Regions from separate parts of the Homo sapiens genome. Here region 2 is linked to region 1. A link means that fine-mapping ties the variant in region 1 to the expression of a gene that starts in the linked region. Tissue or cell type: whole blood. Region 1 holds a variant in brackets; the other region holds the start of a gene. All regions are shown on one strand. Distances are from middle to middle.

Region 1 (7,458 bases):
AGCGGATGGCTCCTAAAGGCTGGGCTGCTCCTGGAGGCCATGCCCTTGCCCCAAGGGAAAAGGCGGCTTTGTGCCTGGCCACTAGCACCAGCATTTGAACACTAAATGGGCTCCCAGTTCAAAAAGGGGAGCTGGAAGAAGTCCAAAAGCAGGGGCCTGCATGGAGCCTAAGCACTTACAGCTCAAGGCTGGAAGCCACCAGCCATGCCACAGTCATCTCCAGGTGTCAGACACCAGGGAAGGCCAAACAGGACGAGACATGGGTGCTCTCTTTTAATCCCGGGGTAAAAGGCAACCCCACCGCTTCTGGAGGTTAGTGATGTAATCAATACCAGATTTTTTCTTTTTTTTCTTGAGACAGGGTCTCACTCTGCCACCCAGGTTGGAGGGCAGTGGCGCAAGCAGGGTTCACTGCAGCCTCAACCACCTGGGCTCAAGTAATCCTTCTGCCTCAGCCTCCTGAGTAGCTGGGACTACAGGCACATGCCACCACCCGGCTAATTTTATTTTTTTTGTAGAGACTGGGTTTTACCATGTTGCCCAGGCTGTTCTTGAACTCCTGAGCTCAAGTGATCCTCTTGCCTCAGCCTCCCAAAGTGCTGGGATTACAGGCGTGAGCCACTGTGCCTGGCCCCAATACTAGGTTTTCAGCTCACAGCTTGCAGTAGTCTCAAACAGAAAAGGTCCAGCATCATGCCAAGTGCCCGCTGAGGCTTCACAGACAGCCTGGGACCTCAAGGACAAGCGGACGACCAGCCCCACACTAGGTCCCTGGTGAGTGTGTAGACAACAGGTCAGCTTGCAATGGCTCCTGGATTTGTGTTCAAAGAGTGAGGCTTTCCCTTTGTAGGACTAAGCCAGACCCTAGACCTCTGAAGGTCCAGCAGCCACACACAGGACTGAAGCTGTTGACCTAGGCCAGGACTCAAAGACCAGATTCCTAAAAGGAAGATGAGGTTAGACCAGCACTGGAAACTTCTAAATTCCAACTTGATACTTCCCAAAGAGTAAAAACAATCTGAGAAACGCCACTCCTCCACCCCCTCCCTGACCCCCCATCTCTTATTGTCTGAGCTGGGTCTGAGTCCTAGGTGTATAGAAAAAGAGTGAACTTGACAGTGGCCAACTGGGGGTGTGGGAGAGACAGAGCTTCCAATTGTGCTGGGGACCTCAGGGGCTCCTAACCAGCCTCTCTCCCTCCCCTCCTGTCTCAGCTGAGGCCTCTCTGGCTCTTTGGTTGTCCCTGAGCTTGAAGGGTCTAGCTCCACGCTGCCATGTGCCCACTCCACTGCCAGCACAGGTGTGGCGCCACTATAGTTCAAGACAGGGGTCACGTGTGTTAGTGCATATATATTTTTCAAACTAAGAAAACCAACTCGGCCGGGCGCAGTGGCTCAAGCCTGTAATCCCAGTGCTTTGGAAGGCTGAGGCAGACAGATCACAAGGTCAGGAGTTCGAGACCAGCCTGGCCAACACGGTGAAACCCCGTCTCTATTAAAAATACAAAAATTACCTGGGCGTGGTGGTGGGCACCTGTAATCCCAGCTACTTGGGAGGCTGAGGCAGGAGAATCGTTTGAACCCGGGAGGCGGAGGTTGCAGTGAGCCGAGATTGCGCCATTGCACTCCAGCCTAGGTGACTGGAAGACAGGGCAAGACTCTGTCTCAAAAACAAAACAAAACAAAATGAAACAAAAAAACCCAACTCAGTTTTGCGGGGGTGGAAGCAGGAAACCTTGCTGAGGCCTAGGATCCCACTTTTTTAGTGATTCCTATATATTCAAGGCTAGACAAGAATACAAACATAAAATAAGGTACACATATGGTCTTTAAAGATTTTGCAAGAATCTGACGTAGGGATGGGGTGGAGGAAGTAAGGACCAGTGACATTCACCCCCATCCCACAATGTTAATGCAGCTTGATGGCCTGAGAAGCTACTTACACCAGATTGGAAAGTTTATCCCAGTGTGGATTTCTGAAAAAGCTGCGGAAATCGTAGAATGGCATATTCCCCAAAGCAGCACTTTTTTTCAAACCATGTGTTGTGACCCATTAGTGGGTTATAGAACCAATTTAGTGGGTCATGGTCAACACTGGACAAAAAAAAACCTGAGTGCATTAATATACATGTGGTAAGAATAAGTACTATTAGGTTGGCAAAAAGTAACTGCAGTTAAAATATTTTGAAAAAACCCGTTCAGTTGCATATATAACACGTATGTGTCCCGGGTCATGATATAAAATGTGTATTTTACCGTGAGTGACTGCTGAGAAGCTGGAGAATCTCCACTCTACTGAATTCTCTGCCCAGCACCTGCGCCGACTCTCGGTCCTTTCTGGCCAGGCTTCAGGGCAGTTACATCAGAGGGAGGACATCCCTCTCATGAGAAGCTGGTCTTGGAACCAAAAAACATGCAAACCAACACAAAACCCAAGACCCACACAGTCACACTCAGGCACTTTTAGGGTGAGGAACTTTAACTTTCTGACCTGACTTAAAATGTTACTAAATTGGCTCAAACAGTAAAACCAGGAGAGGCAGAAAATGGGGCCTCCTGTTGGAGCTGGACTCCTCTTCCAGCTTCTTCCTAAGCCCGAGTTTCCAGTTTGGACTGGATTTGAGGATGTGAATGGTCAGTAATTCCGGCTGGTGCCAGTGTAAGGACTTTCTCAGAGCAGTTGACCATCATGTGGCTGAGCCCTGATAACCCGGCAATCAGCTCACTGCCCACCTGAGGACAGAAGGTTTTACCAGCAAAGCACAAATGGCCAGGGGGCCTCACATGCTTGGGGGAGGGGAGGGAGAACCTCCGGAAATGGCTGGAAGTAAAAGAAATGTTGGTGCCCCTAGCTGGAAAATTCTGTCAATCATGAGCTACGGAAGCCATTCAACAGAGAAGCTGTGCTAAGACTGAGGTCAACTGATTGAATAGTTTTTGAGTGTTTTCTATAGACTTAAGACAAGACAAGAATACAAATATATAATTAAGAATGGGAATTAGCTTTCTAGAACTTACACTGAGATGAGGGAGGTAAGATGAAATTACACCTGAAAACAGTTATACACAAGTAAATAGAGCACTAAGCTGGGTGGGGAGACCAGAAACTGAGTCCTGTCTGGATGGCGGTGGGGGAAGGCAGGAGGACCGGGGTTGCAGGGGAACTGCACACCAGGGACAGCCCCCACGCCCTCACCCCTGACACCCTCTCTGATCTCACAACGCAGACTCTCAGGCTGGGCAATACAGTGCTGCTGCATCACCGCCTGGAAACTCGGCTGCAGCTCGCCAGCTTGCTGGAATGGCCTGGAGGCACAGCCTGCCCGAGGGACAGAGAAAGGGGACTGAGTCCAACTGCCTG[C/T]TAAGTGAGGGGGAAGGACTGCAGAGCTTGGCCTGGCAGGGGGCCAGCGGGCTGGTCTCTGCAGATGCTGCGGTGTTTGATAAGCAATATGTGCACTTGGCGGCAGGAGCTGGGAGCCGAGGAGCCCAGCCCTGCACCCCTCTGTCTTGGCTCTGGGCTTGTCAACCTGGCTTAAAAAAAGACAAGAACAGCCCAGGCCTGGCTCCTGCATTTGAAGGGAGGGGACAGATGGGCATCTTTAGGAGAAGGCCGCCTCCTTCCTCAAAAGTATAAGTAGAAGGCAGAAAAGTGATCAGCATGATTCCATGTTCTGTTCTTGTCAGGCCTGACTGGGTATCACTACCTAACCAGTGGCCCCGGACTGCTCCATTTCAGATGCGACAGGCTGCGGTCCTGTGGCTGCCGGGCATCCCTGAGAACAAGAAGGGAGTCGGCCAGCTGGCCAGGCACAGAGCAAGTTCACAGCCTCAACACCCCTCAGTGTCTGATGCCATGTTAGTTCACGGAATGAGGACCCAGGCTGCTAATCACACAAACTGATCCTGACGGAGCCTGCCAGGAAAGAACCCCACGTGCACTGCCTCTCCCAACCCTATGACCCCCACGAAGGAGGCACCACTCTTGTTCTCATTCCACAGGAGACTGGGTGGCTTGGAGAAGTAAGTGAGCTGCCTAAGGTCACCCAAGTGCCAGGACTCCAGAGCCTTTGTTTTGCTCACCTGCCCTTCCTCATTTGACCTGTCTGGTCTCCAAGCATGGCCCTTGCTACACCTGGACCAATTGGAACCATGCTGCCATTCAAGTGTGGCCCTGGGCCTGGCGAGGTGGCTCACACCTGTAATCCCAGCACTTTGAGAGGGCAAGGCGGTTGGATCACTTGAGGTCAGGAGTTGCAGACCAGCCTGGCCAACATGGTGAAACCTGGTCTCTACTAAAAATACAAAAATCAGCTGGGTGTGGTGGTGCGCACCTGTAATCCCAGCTACTTAGGAGGCCGAGGTAGGAGAATTGCTTGGACCCAGGAGGTGGAGTTTGAGTGAGCTGAGATCACGCCACTGCACTCCAGCTTGGGCAACAGAGCAAGACTGTGTGTGTGTGTGTGTGTGTGTGTGTGTGTGTGCATACACATATATGTATATACAAATATATATACATACATGTATATACAAATATATGTACATACACGTATATACAAATATATACACATGCACATACACGTATATACGTATGCGTATACATATGCACATACACGTATATACGTATGCGTATACATATGCACATACACGTATATACGTATGTGTATACATATGTACACACACGTATATATGTGTGTGTACATATGTACATACACGTATATACGTATGTGTATACATATGTACATACATGTATATGCGTATGTGTATACATATATACATATATGTGCGTGTATAGATATATAAAGTGTGGCTTTATATACACATACGTGTGTGTGTGTATATGTATATGTGTATATGTGTGTGTATATGTATGTATATGTATATGTGTATATATGTGTGTATATGTATGTATATGTATATATATAAAGCATGGCCCTGGACTGGCAGCCCAGCATCTTCCCTGAGCTTGCTGGAAACGCAGACTCTCAGGCCCCATCCCAGACCTGCTGCCTGGGAATCATCTGAAAAAGTTCCCCAAATGATTCTGATGCACACCCCCCAGAGAAACAGCTAAAAGGGACTGCATCCCTCTGAGCTGCTTCTGGGAAAATTTGGGGGAAACAGCGGTGTTCCCCTGTAGCTATGCTCCCCAGGAGAAGAGGAGCCCTGGAGGGGCTGTGTCCAAGAAGTGGGGCAGGGCCTGCTCTCAGCCATGACAGACCGCACGTGGAAGAGACACAACCTCCCTGAGCCCACACCAACCTCCCCGCGCTTCTCAAACACCTGCAGTTACTATTTCAAGGCAGATGAAATGAATACCATCCCGGGATGCTGGCATCACTGGGACACCAGCTGGCCTGGAGAGTGGGAGTTGACCAAAATGTCACTTCTTGGCTGGGTCATTAGGTCCTAAGACCCTCAACTGCCCACCTTTGCACCTCCATCTCTCCCAAGGCACAACAGCAACAAGCAGCTCATCTCAGGACAGTGAAACAGGACTCAAATACTAACTAGAACAGCACCATCATGGAGACTGGGAGGAGTTTCTGCCCAATTCTGCAGGTGCAGTGAGACAAAGCTGCGGCTGGTCACATGGAGGCTACACACTGCAGGGGACAGAGATGTGGAGTATAAGCTTCAGGGCACAGGGACCAGGTCCTGCAGGGGCCACAGAGTTGCCACTCCCCAGCTGTGTGTGCTGGAGTCATGTCACATCTCTGGGCACCAGATGCCTCATCAGGGGGTTGGGCAACACTGAGCTGAATGAGCTCCAGGCCCTTCCGGCTACAGCTCCAGAGCTTGTCCCCTAAACACCTCCTGGGGTCCTGATTTCCACCTGCCTGGCACCTCTCCCTGACTCAGGGGCAGGCTTCTGCTCTTCACATGTGGGCACCCCCATTGACCATCAGAGCAGGCCAGCCGAAAGTCAACGACATCCCTGGGCAGCATGGCCCAAGGAGGCCCCCATGGCTGGGGCACCAGGGCAGGTCCCTAGACGAGGACCTCTTCCCTGGAGAAGACGATAACATTTACAAAGAACAGAACACAATGCAAAATTTCATGTATGGGCACATCAGGATTTAAATGTATTATTACAGTGAGGGGATTTTAGATACACCAGGAGAGCTATCTGAAGAGAACCAACAGGAAATCTTAGAGTATTAACCACCTCCTTGTTAATATGGTCAAAATTCTCTACCCCCTCCTTTTTATGAGTGTGGACACACCCACCACCAGTGATAAGAGGACATGGATGGAGGCCAAATGAGAGTGCACTGGGTGGCTGAACTGAGCTGGGTCTTTAGAGGCCATCACTAAAACCACCTGGCAGAGAGCACCACGAAGGGCCTTCGACTACAGGAGGAAAGAATGCTAAGCATGTCCAGGGGCAGGAAACAGCTATTGCAGGCCCAGGCGAGACAGGAGGAAGGGAAGAGGAGCAGGTGTTTGATGCTGCATGGATGCATCAGCGTCCGCGAAGAGACGTCTGGGTGAAGAGATGAATGTCTCACTGCACCTGCAGAATTGGGCAGAAACTCCTCCCAGTCTCCATGATGGTGCTGTTTCCGCTGGTATTTGAGTCCTGGCTCACTGCATTTAGAGGAGCTGCTTGCTGCTGTTGTGCCTTGGGAGAAGTGGAGGTGGAGAAGTGGGCAGATGAGGTTCAATGCTCTTCACCACCTCAGGAGGAAGGCGCAGGGGGAGGTCACAGAGCTGGGACACGTGGAGTGGGCCTACACCCAGTCCCACCCTGGGGTCTGGGATAGCTGCCCCACACTGCCCTGGGACGCCCTGAAGAAGGGATAATAGAGAACAGACACCAACATGTGAGACCTGGAACCTCAGCCTTCTGACAATGTTTTCTATACTATTAGGCAAAAAACTTCCCTCTTCTAGGAGCCCACAGCCTCCCGGAGGGCTCTCCAGGCCTCACACAAAAACTCATTTTATCACAGTCCTGAAGGAGGTACACAATTCCTGAAAGTAACAGACTAAACTGTACTTGGACTATAGGACACCCTCTTCCAGGAGCCATGCCTTACAACCAGCAACTGCGAGGCGCCATTTGGCTGTCTGCACCCTGTGCTGGCCTCTGAAGGGCAATGGTGGAAGCCAACAGTTGGAGGAAGTTTAGATATTCAATTCAGCAGTGCTGAAAGCAAAAGACCATGAAGCTGTGGAAAATGGAGCAGCCTCCACAGGTCCCTTGGAAGGAGGAACAGGTTTTTTTTTTTTTTTTTTGAGACGGAGTCTCGCTCTGTCACCCAGGCTGGAGTGCAGTGGCGCGATCTCGGCTCACTGCAAGCTCCACCTCCTGGGTTCACGCCATTCTCCTGCCTCAGCCTCCTGAGTAGCTGGGACTACAGGCACCCGCCACCACGCCCGGCTAACTTTTTGTATTTTTAGTAGAGACAGGGTTTCACCGTGTTGGCCAGGATGGTCTTGATCTCCTGACCTCGTG
Region 2 (7,458 bases), 31 kb before region 1:
AGTAGAGACGGGGGTTTCACCATGTTGGCCAGGATGGTCTCAAATCTCCTGACCTCATGATCACCCGCCTTGGCCTCCCAAAGTGCTGGGATTACAGATGTGAGCCACCGTGCCCGGCCCCTAAGCTCAAAGAGCTTGTGAGATAGAACCTCCCCCTTCCCCGGTCCTTGCAACCCCCTAGGCAGTAAAGTACCATAAAAAGGGAAAAACCGGAGTGGTGGCTCATGCCTATAACCCCAGCACTTTGGGAGGCCGAGGCAGGCGGATCACTTGAGGTCAGGAGTTTGAGACCAGCTTGGCCAACATGTGAAACACAAACTCTACTAAAAATACAAAAATTAGCTAGGTGCAGTGGCTCACACTTGTAATCACAGCTATTCGGGAGGCTGAGGCAAGAGTATTGCTTGAAACCGGGAGGCAGAGGTTGCAGTGAGCCAAGATCGCGCCACTGCACTCCAGCCTCAGCCTGGGCAACAGAGCGAGACTCTGTCTCAAAAAAAAAAAAAGGGAAAGAAGTTGAGGTCAAGGAAGACCTTGAGGCTATGCAATTAGGGAGCTGAAATCTCCTAGGGAAGGTAGCTTCAGGGAAGGGTGAGATGGCAGGAATCCTCTCCTCATAAAAGCAAGTAATTTGCCATCTGGCAGCCTTGACTCCAAGTTTCTGGAGAGCTGGGACCAGGCCAGGTGAATGCCTGCTTTCTTTCTCGGGAAAAGAAAAAAGGGGGTTCTCAGGTGTGTCTCCCTGGGGAGGCTGCCCACAAGGAAGGGGAGGCTGGGGAAGTTAGAAAAAGTCTCCCACCTGTGAAGCAGATTACCTGCAAGCCAAGCTCTGGGTTGGTGATCAAATCAGACCTCTCTGCCGGCCCAGGCCTGTTCCCAGGCCCACGGTGGGCCTTGCTGAGCACAGCGGCTGCTCAGCTGTTTCCAGACTCAGGATGAAGCCTGGGGAGGGCTTGGAGCTGCTTCCTCTTTCTTTTTTTTTTTGAGATGGAGTTTCGCCCTGTCACCCAGGCTGGAGTGCAATGGGACGATCTCAGCTCACCACAACCTCTGCCTCCTGGGTGCAAGCAATTCTCCTGCCTCAGCCTCCCAAGTAGCTGGGACTACAGGTATGCGCCACCACACCCGGTGTAGAGACGGGGTTTGAGACGGGTTTCTCCACGTTGGTCAGGCTGGTCTCCAACCCCCGATCTCAGGTGATCCACCCACGTCGGCCTCCCAAAGTGCTAGGATTACAGGAGTGAGCCACTGCGCCCGGCCTGCTGCTTCCTCCTCCTCAGGGAGACGCCACAGCTCTGCGGCAAGCAATCCACCAGGCACCAGATCCCCAGATACCTGCCCTTCAGGGAGAAATAGCCTGGGATACAGAGAGGCCCAGAGGGGAGCTCTGGCTGGACTTGGCTTCTCAGCGTGGGGTCTGGGTTCACAGGTTTGCTTCTCTGCTTTGTGGGGAACTGGTTGGAGGCTTGTGCAAGCCTCTTCACCTCTCAGGGTTTCAGGCCCCCCCAACTCCTTCCCGCCTTGTCCTTTTTTCTTTTTTAAAAAAGGAAGTAAAGTACAGTGGGAAACGGGCCAAGCTGGCAGCTTGAGAGATCCAAGTGCCCGCCCCCCGACCCGCAACCGTGGGAAGGGGAACCATCTTGCTCTTGGCCAATCCTGCCTCTCTGAGCAGGGATGCAGCTGGGGGAGTTTCTGGAGATAGGATCAAATTCTTTAGAAAGGGAGAAGGGGAAAGGGGTCTGGAGAAAGGCAGCCTGGGTTGGGGGAAGTGAATGACAAGAATGAGGGGGGCAAAGGCCTTGGAGGTGAGGGGGGCAGGGGGTTAGGCGCCAGGGAGGACAGAGGACCCATTGTGCGGCCTGGAACCGGGGCCAGAGGGCTTTGCCCTTCGCCTCCCTCCCGCGGGGCCTTCCAGAGCCAGGAGGGGAGCTGGGGCCCGGAGGCGTTGGATAAAGAGCCCGTGCCCCGCCTCCCCTTGCCAACTCAGTTTGCAGTCAACCCCGCCCCCGCCCGCTCCGCGGACTCAAGGCTGGTGGTAGTGGGCCTGGAGGCGCAGGATCCGACCTTTCTGGGGCCCCAGGAGGAAAAAAAAAGGGGGGACCCTGAACCAGGTGGGCTTTATCACCACGAACTCACAGTGCTTCCCTGTGCCTCAGTTTCCCCTCTTCAGACTCTATGGCTAATGACAGAGCTTTTCAGATTTGGTGGAAATGCTCTCCGGGGCGGGGAGCAGACGGGGAAGGCTGCCCCAGCTAATCTCCGCAGCCAGTACCCTCGAAGGCTGAGATCTCGGGGAGCACAGCCTCCGATTCGCGTTTTCTAGGCACCAAAGTCCCTCGCTGGAGGAAGAGGAGGGGAAGAAGGCAGAGGAGAGGGGAGGGGCGGACGGATCTGGTCCTGGGCTCCCGCGCGGAGCCCCCTCCTCCCACAGCCGCCGCTCGCGTCCCCGCAGCGCATGACCGCGGCACTGCGGCTGCAGGGCTCTCTCCCCCGCCCGCGCCGGATTCCTGGAGCAAGGGGGTGGGGGGCTCGGAGGTGCAGGACCCATCATTCCGACACGCGCCGCGACGCCAGGAGTCGGGGATGACGCCCCTGCTCCCTCCCCTCGTTCCTGTTTCTCGGAGTTTTTCGACCCCTGAGCGCGTCGCTGAGTCACCTTCCCGGAACGCGCTCGGGACGCTCTGGACCCAGCGGGGACTGCCCGGGGGCCGCGCAAGGCGAAGGCGCACCCGCCGATACGCGCGCGGAGCTGCGGCCCCAGGGACCCCGCGTCCCAGCCAGTGCCCCCCGACCCGCCCGGGGACTCTCGGGTCCCGCCCGTCTGACCCCCCAAGTGTTGGGAAACGGGGCCGAGCTGCCTGGGTCCTCCGGAAGAGAAGACACCGCGGAGGCGTGCCGGAGTTCAGGGCGCCGCCCGGCTAATTGGCTGCGTGCTCCTCCTGGACCTGCCTCTTCTCGACTTTAAGAAGCGATGAGAGAGGTGTGTGGGGGCGGGTGGGGCCGGCGGGGGCGCGCGAGCCCCGCAGCCTCCCGCAGGGGCTTGGTTTCTCCTAACTCTGGCCCTACCTGGGCAGGTCACCAATGGGCCTTGGCAACTTCTTCCTCCGTCTCCGCCGTAACCCCCCAGGGATCTAACTCGAGGTGCTCGCGGACACGTTCTGTGGCTTGCCGCGATAAGTGTATCACAAACACACTGACAAACGCGTCCCTACTGGCCTCCAAAGAAGTGACAACTTCTGAGCGCGTTTCCGGCGCCCCTTCTTCACGCTGAGCCAGAGGGGGCGGGGGGCACGTACCACATGCTTGGCTTTCCAATCCCGACGGGGGCCCCCAGGCCCATCTACACTGTCAAGCCTCCTCTCCGGCTCGGAGCCCCCGGCCTGTCGCCTGCTCTACCCGGGACAGCGCGCTAGGCGGCCTCAGGCTCGGTAGCCCAGCTGCAGCGTCGGGAAGTTAAAAATAACCTCCGTGGGAGCGCGGGGGAGGAAGAAAGAGGGAAGCTGGTGGGCGGCGGGCGAGACGCCCCGGCCTGGAGAGGCGCCCCGGGTGGCGTGCGGGCCTCGAATTTCGGGTGGGCTAGGGCAGAGCGCGCAAAAGGGGCGCTGCATCCCGGCGCCGACAGCACCCGCGGGGGCGAGGTCGTGGCGTCGAGGTGAAACCAAGGGTCCCCCGGGAGAGCGGAGCCGCGCGCGCCCGGCGCTCGCTCCGACACGAGTTCGCGCGGAGCCCGCGCCTCCGTCTGCGCTGCGCGGTCGCTTTCGCGCGCCCCAGACACTGCGCTCGCGGCCGGGCCCGGGACTCCGCGCCTCGCGGCCTGCCGCCTCAGCTCACCCGGCCAGGTCGCGGCGCCGCCTTCTAGCCAGACGCCTAGGACGAGCGGCGGGGGCGCGCTTGCCGCTTCCTAGGACCCGGGCGGGAACCAGCTCGTGGCCCGGCCGTGGGCGCGGGCCGTGCCGGAGGCGGCGCGCTGAGGCCGGAGGCGGGCAGAGGCCGAGGCCGCGCCGGGCTCAGGTTCCACCCCCGGGAGCGCGGGGCGGAGCCAGGCCGGCGCCGAGGCTCAGTGCCCTCCCCGCTCCGCGGCGCCGGCTGCGAAGTTGAGCGAAAAGTTTGAGGCCGGAGGGAGCGAGGCCGGGGAGTCCGCTCCAGCGGGGCGCTCCAGTCCCTCAGACGTGGGCTGAGCTTGGGACGAGCTGCGTTCCGCCCCAGGCCACTGTAGGGAACGGCGGTGGCGCCTCCCCAGCAAACCGGACCGACTGGGTAGGGCCGCCCACCCTGCCTTCGCGCCGCTCGTGGCTCCTGTGCGGCCCGCCCTCGCGGGGCCCCGGGAACTGGGCCACTTGTCGCTTGGGCGAGAGCAGGCGGCAGCTGGTGGCCCGGTTCGGGCTTGGCTTTGGCGCGACCCGGGAGCGGCTCCCACGAGCGCCGCGCGCGTCGCAACGGAGCGGGGCCCTGAGAAGCGCGCGCCGCGGCTCCCACCGCTCTGGAGCTCCGGGCAGGGGACACGGCAACCTGGATGGCTGGGGCAGGGATCCTCTCCCAGAACTTCGTGCCCAGCAATGTCCGCTCAAGTTCTGGGATTTTTACGCAGCTGGACTCCCCTCCCCCTGGCAGCCCCGAGGGGTGAGGAGCTAGTCCGTCGGAGGGAGCCACGGGGCTCTGACTCATCCGTCGGGCCGGAACCGAACCCCAAGCCCCAGGGAGAAAGCCCCGGAGCAGGCGCCCTTCTCAGGGATTGTAGGCTTAGTCACACGGCGGGGGCGCCCTCGGAGGCACCGGACCTCAGCTCTCTGGACTTCCCGGGAACCTGGCTCCCCGCGCGTGGTCCCGGGATTTAGTCGGGCGCTCCCCACCTCTGGCAGCTGCGGCCCCGGACTCCGCCAGCGCTGTCTTCTCTCCCTCAGGTCCAGCCGCCGCAGGGAATGACGCCGGTGCTCCTGCAGCCACGGCTCCGGGCGGGGAAGGCGAGCCCCACAGCCGGCCCTGCGACGCCCGCCTGGGCAGCACCGATAAGGAGCTGAAGGCAGGAGCCGCCGCCACGGGCAGCGCCCCCACAGCGCCAGGGACCCCCTGGCAGCGGGAGCCGCGGGTCGAGGTTATGGATCCAGGTTTGTGGGGTTCCTGCTGGGAAGGGCTGTAGGGGGATTCCTGTTCCTCGCCAGGAATGATGGAACGCCCAGCTGGACGAAAGGGGCTGTGGACGATCGGGAGAAACATTATCCCTCACGAGGCCAGAAGCCGGCCGAATCTGAGCCAAGGAAGGGGGTGGCAGGGGCGCCGCGTCCCCACCCCAGGTCTCCCAGCAAAGGCCGCTCCTCTGGCCAGGGTCAATTACCGGGGTGTTTCGGGCACCAAGTTCCCACACTAGTGCCCCATTGTTACCCGTGGCCCCCTAGTGGTCGGTTGCGGACGTGGCCTCTTTGGTTTTGTTTTCTCAGCGGGCGGCCCCCGGGGCGTGCTCCCGCGGCCCTGCCGCGTGCTGGTGCTGCTGAACCCGCGCGGCGGCAAGGGCAAGGCCTTGCAGCTCTTCCGGAGTCACGTGCAGCCCCTTTTGGCTGAGGCTGAAATCTCCTTCACGCTGATGCTCACTGGTGAGTACCTCTCGGAGGGGGTTTCGGGAGCATCCCCTGGCAGGGGACCCCCCCAGTCCTGATAGCTGCCGGTCTCCCTGCAGAGCGGCGGAACCACGCGCGGGAGCTGGTGCGGTCGGAGGAGCTGGGCCGCTGGGACGCTCTGGTGGTCATGTCTGGAGACGGGCTGATGCACGAGGTGAGGACCGCACTGCGCGGCTAGGCCTGGGGCTTGGCGCGGTGCGTCCCAGGCTGAGGCCACGTGTGCTTCAACAGGTGGTGAACGGGCTCATGGAGCGGCCTGACTGGGAGACCGCCATCCAGAAGCCCCTGTGTAGCCTCCCAGCAGGCTCTGGCAACGCGCTGGCAGCTTCCTTGAACCATTATGCTGGGTGAGAGCCCAGGGCCAGAGTAGGCCTGTTTCCCGTCAGTGCTCCTCTACCGCGGGGGTTTTCTTGTCTAAGCTCCCATAGGCTGAGATCATTTCCATTTCCCCTTCTCCCTTAGTCCTGGGGCCCTCTCCTGGTGACCCCAGCTGACTGCTTCCATTTGCTCCATCTGTCACCTACCAGTCCTGCCAACTCCCCAGGGACCACATGGCGCTTTGCCAGCTCCCACTCCCCGGGAGGAGGAAGCGGGGGATACATGGGGGCTCCTGTCCTGCCTTATCTGACTTTTTCCCCCTGCAGCTATGAGCAGGTCACCAATGAAGACCTCCTGACCAACTGCACGCTATTGCTGTGCCGCCGGCTGCTGTCACCCATGAACCTGCTGTCTCTGCACACGGCTTCGGGGCTGCGCCTCTTCTCTGTGCTCAGCCTGGCCTGGGGCTTCATTGCTGATGTGGACCTAGAGAGTGAGAAGTATCGGCGTCTGGGGGAGATGCGCTTCACTCTGGGCACCTTCCTGCGTCTGGCAGCCCTGCGCACCTACCGCGGCCGACTGGCCTACCTCCCTGTAGGAAGAGTGGGTTCCAAGACACCTGCCTCCCCCGTTGTGGTCCAGCAGGGCCCGGTAGATGCACACCTTGTGCCACTGGAGGAGCCAGTGCCCTCTCACTGGACAGTGGTGCCCGACGAGGACTTTGTGCTAGTCCTGGCACTGCTGCACTCGCACCTGGGCAGTGAGATGTTTGCTGCACCCATGGGCCGCTGTGCAGCTGGCGTCATGCATCTGTTCTACGTGCGGGCGGGAGTGTCTCGTGCCATGCTGCTGCGCCTCTTCCTGGCCATGGAGAAGGGCAGGCATATGGAGTATGAATGCCCCTACTTGGTATATGTGCCCGTGGTCGCCTTCCGCTTGGAGCCCAAGGATGGGAAAGGTGTGTTTGCAGTGGATGGGGAATTGATGGTTAGCGAGGCCGTGCAGGGCCAGGTGCACCCAAACTACTTCTGGATGGTCAGCGGTTGCGTGGAGCCCCCGCCCAGCTGGAAGCCCCAGCAGATGCCACCGCCAGAAGAGCCCTTATGACCCCTGGGCCGCGCTGTGCCTTAGTGTCTACTTGCAGGACCCTTCCTCCTTCCCTAGGGCTGCAGGGCCTGTCCACAGCTCCTGTGGGGGTGGAGGAGACTCCTCTGGAGAAGGGTGAGAAGGTGGAGGCTATGCTTTGGGGGGACAGGCCAGAATGAAGTCCTGGGTCAGGAGCCCAGCTGGCTGGGCCCAGCTGCCTATGTAAGGCCTTCTAGTTTGTTCTGAGACCCCCACCCCACGAACCAAATCCAAATAAAGTGACATTCCCAGCCTGCTCGTCCTGTCCTGGTGACTGGGGAGAGAATGGGTTCTCGTTCTGGCCGGGACTATAGAATTTAATGGTAATGATGGCCAATGGTGCCCCCTGGGATGGGCAATGGATTTTACTGGCCCCAGGCATAGTCATTCTGGTGGGGGACTC

Evidence for each region. PIP is the estimated chance that this variant, and not a neighbour inherited with it, causes the effect.
Region 2: SPHK1 starts here. The variant in region 1 is fine-mapped to the expression of SPHK1 in whole blood (INTERVAL, PIP above 0.99).

What each region holds. Positions count from the first base shown.
Region 1 is chr17:76,411,350-76,418,807 of GRCh38, forward strand. All of the region lies in intron 1 of UBE2O (ubiquitin conjugating enzyme E2 O), which reads right to left. Among named protein-coding and RNA genes, the nearest start is that of SPHK1, 30 kb to the left of the region's middle. The variant C/T (reference allele first, on the strand shown) is at 3,361.
Region 2 is chr17:76,380,550-76,388,007 of GRCh38, forward strand. It overlaps SPHK1 (sphingosine kinase 1), which reads left to right and starts at 4,060. Exons shown (of 6, transcript NM_001142601.2): 1 at 4,060-4,257; 2 at 4,902-5,105; 3 at 5,436-5,588; 4 at 5,672-5,766; 5 at 5,844-5,959; 6 at 6,257-7,306. The coding sequence starts at 5,096. The coding sequence ends at 7,037. RefSeq lists silencers at 2,698-2,987, 3,008-3,147, 3,728-4,427.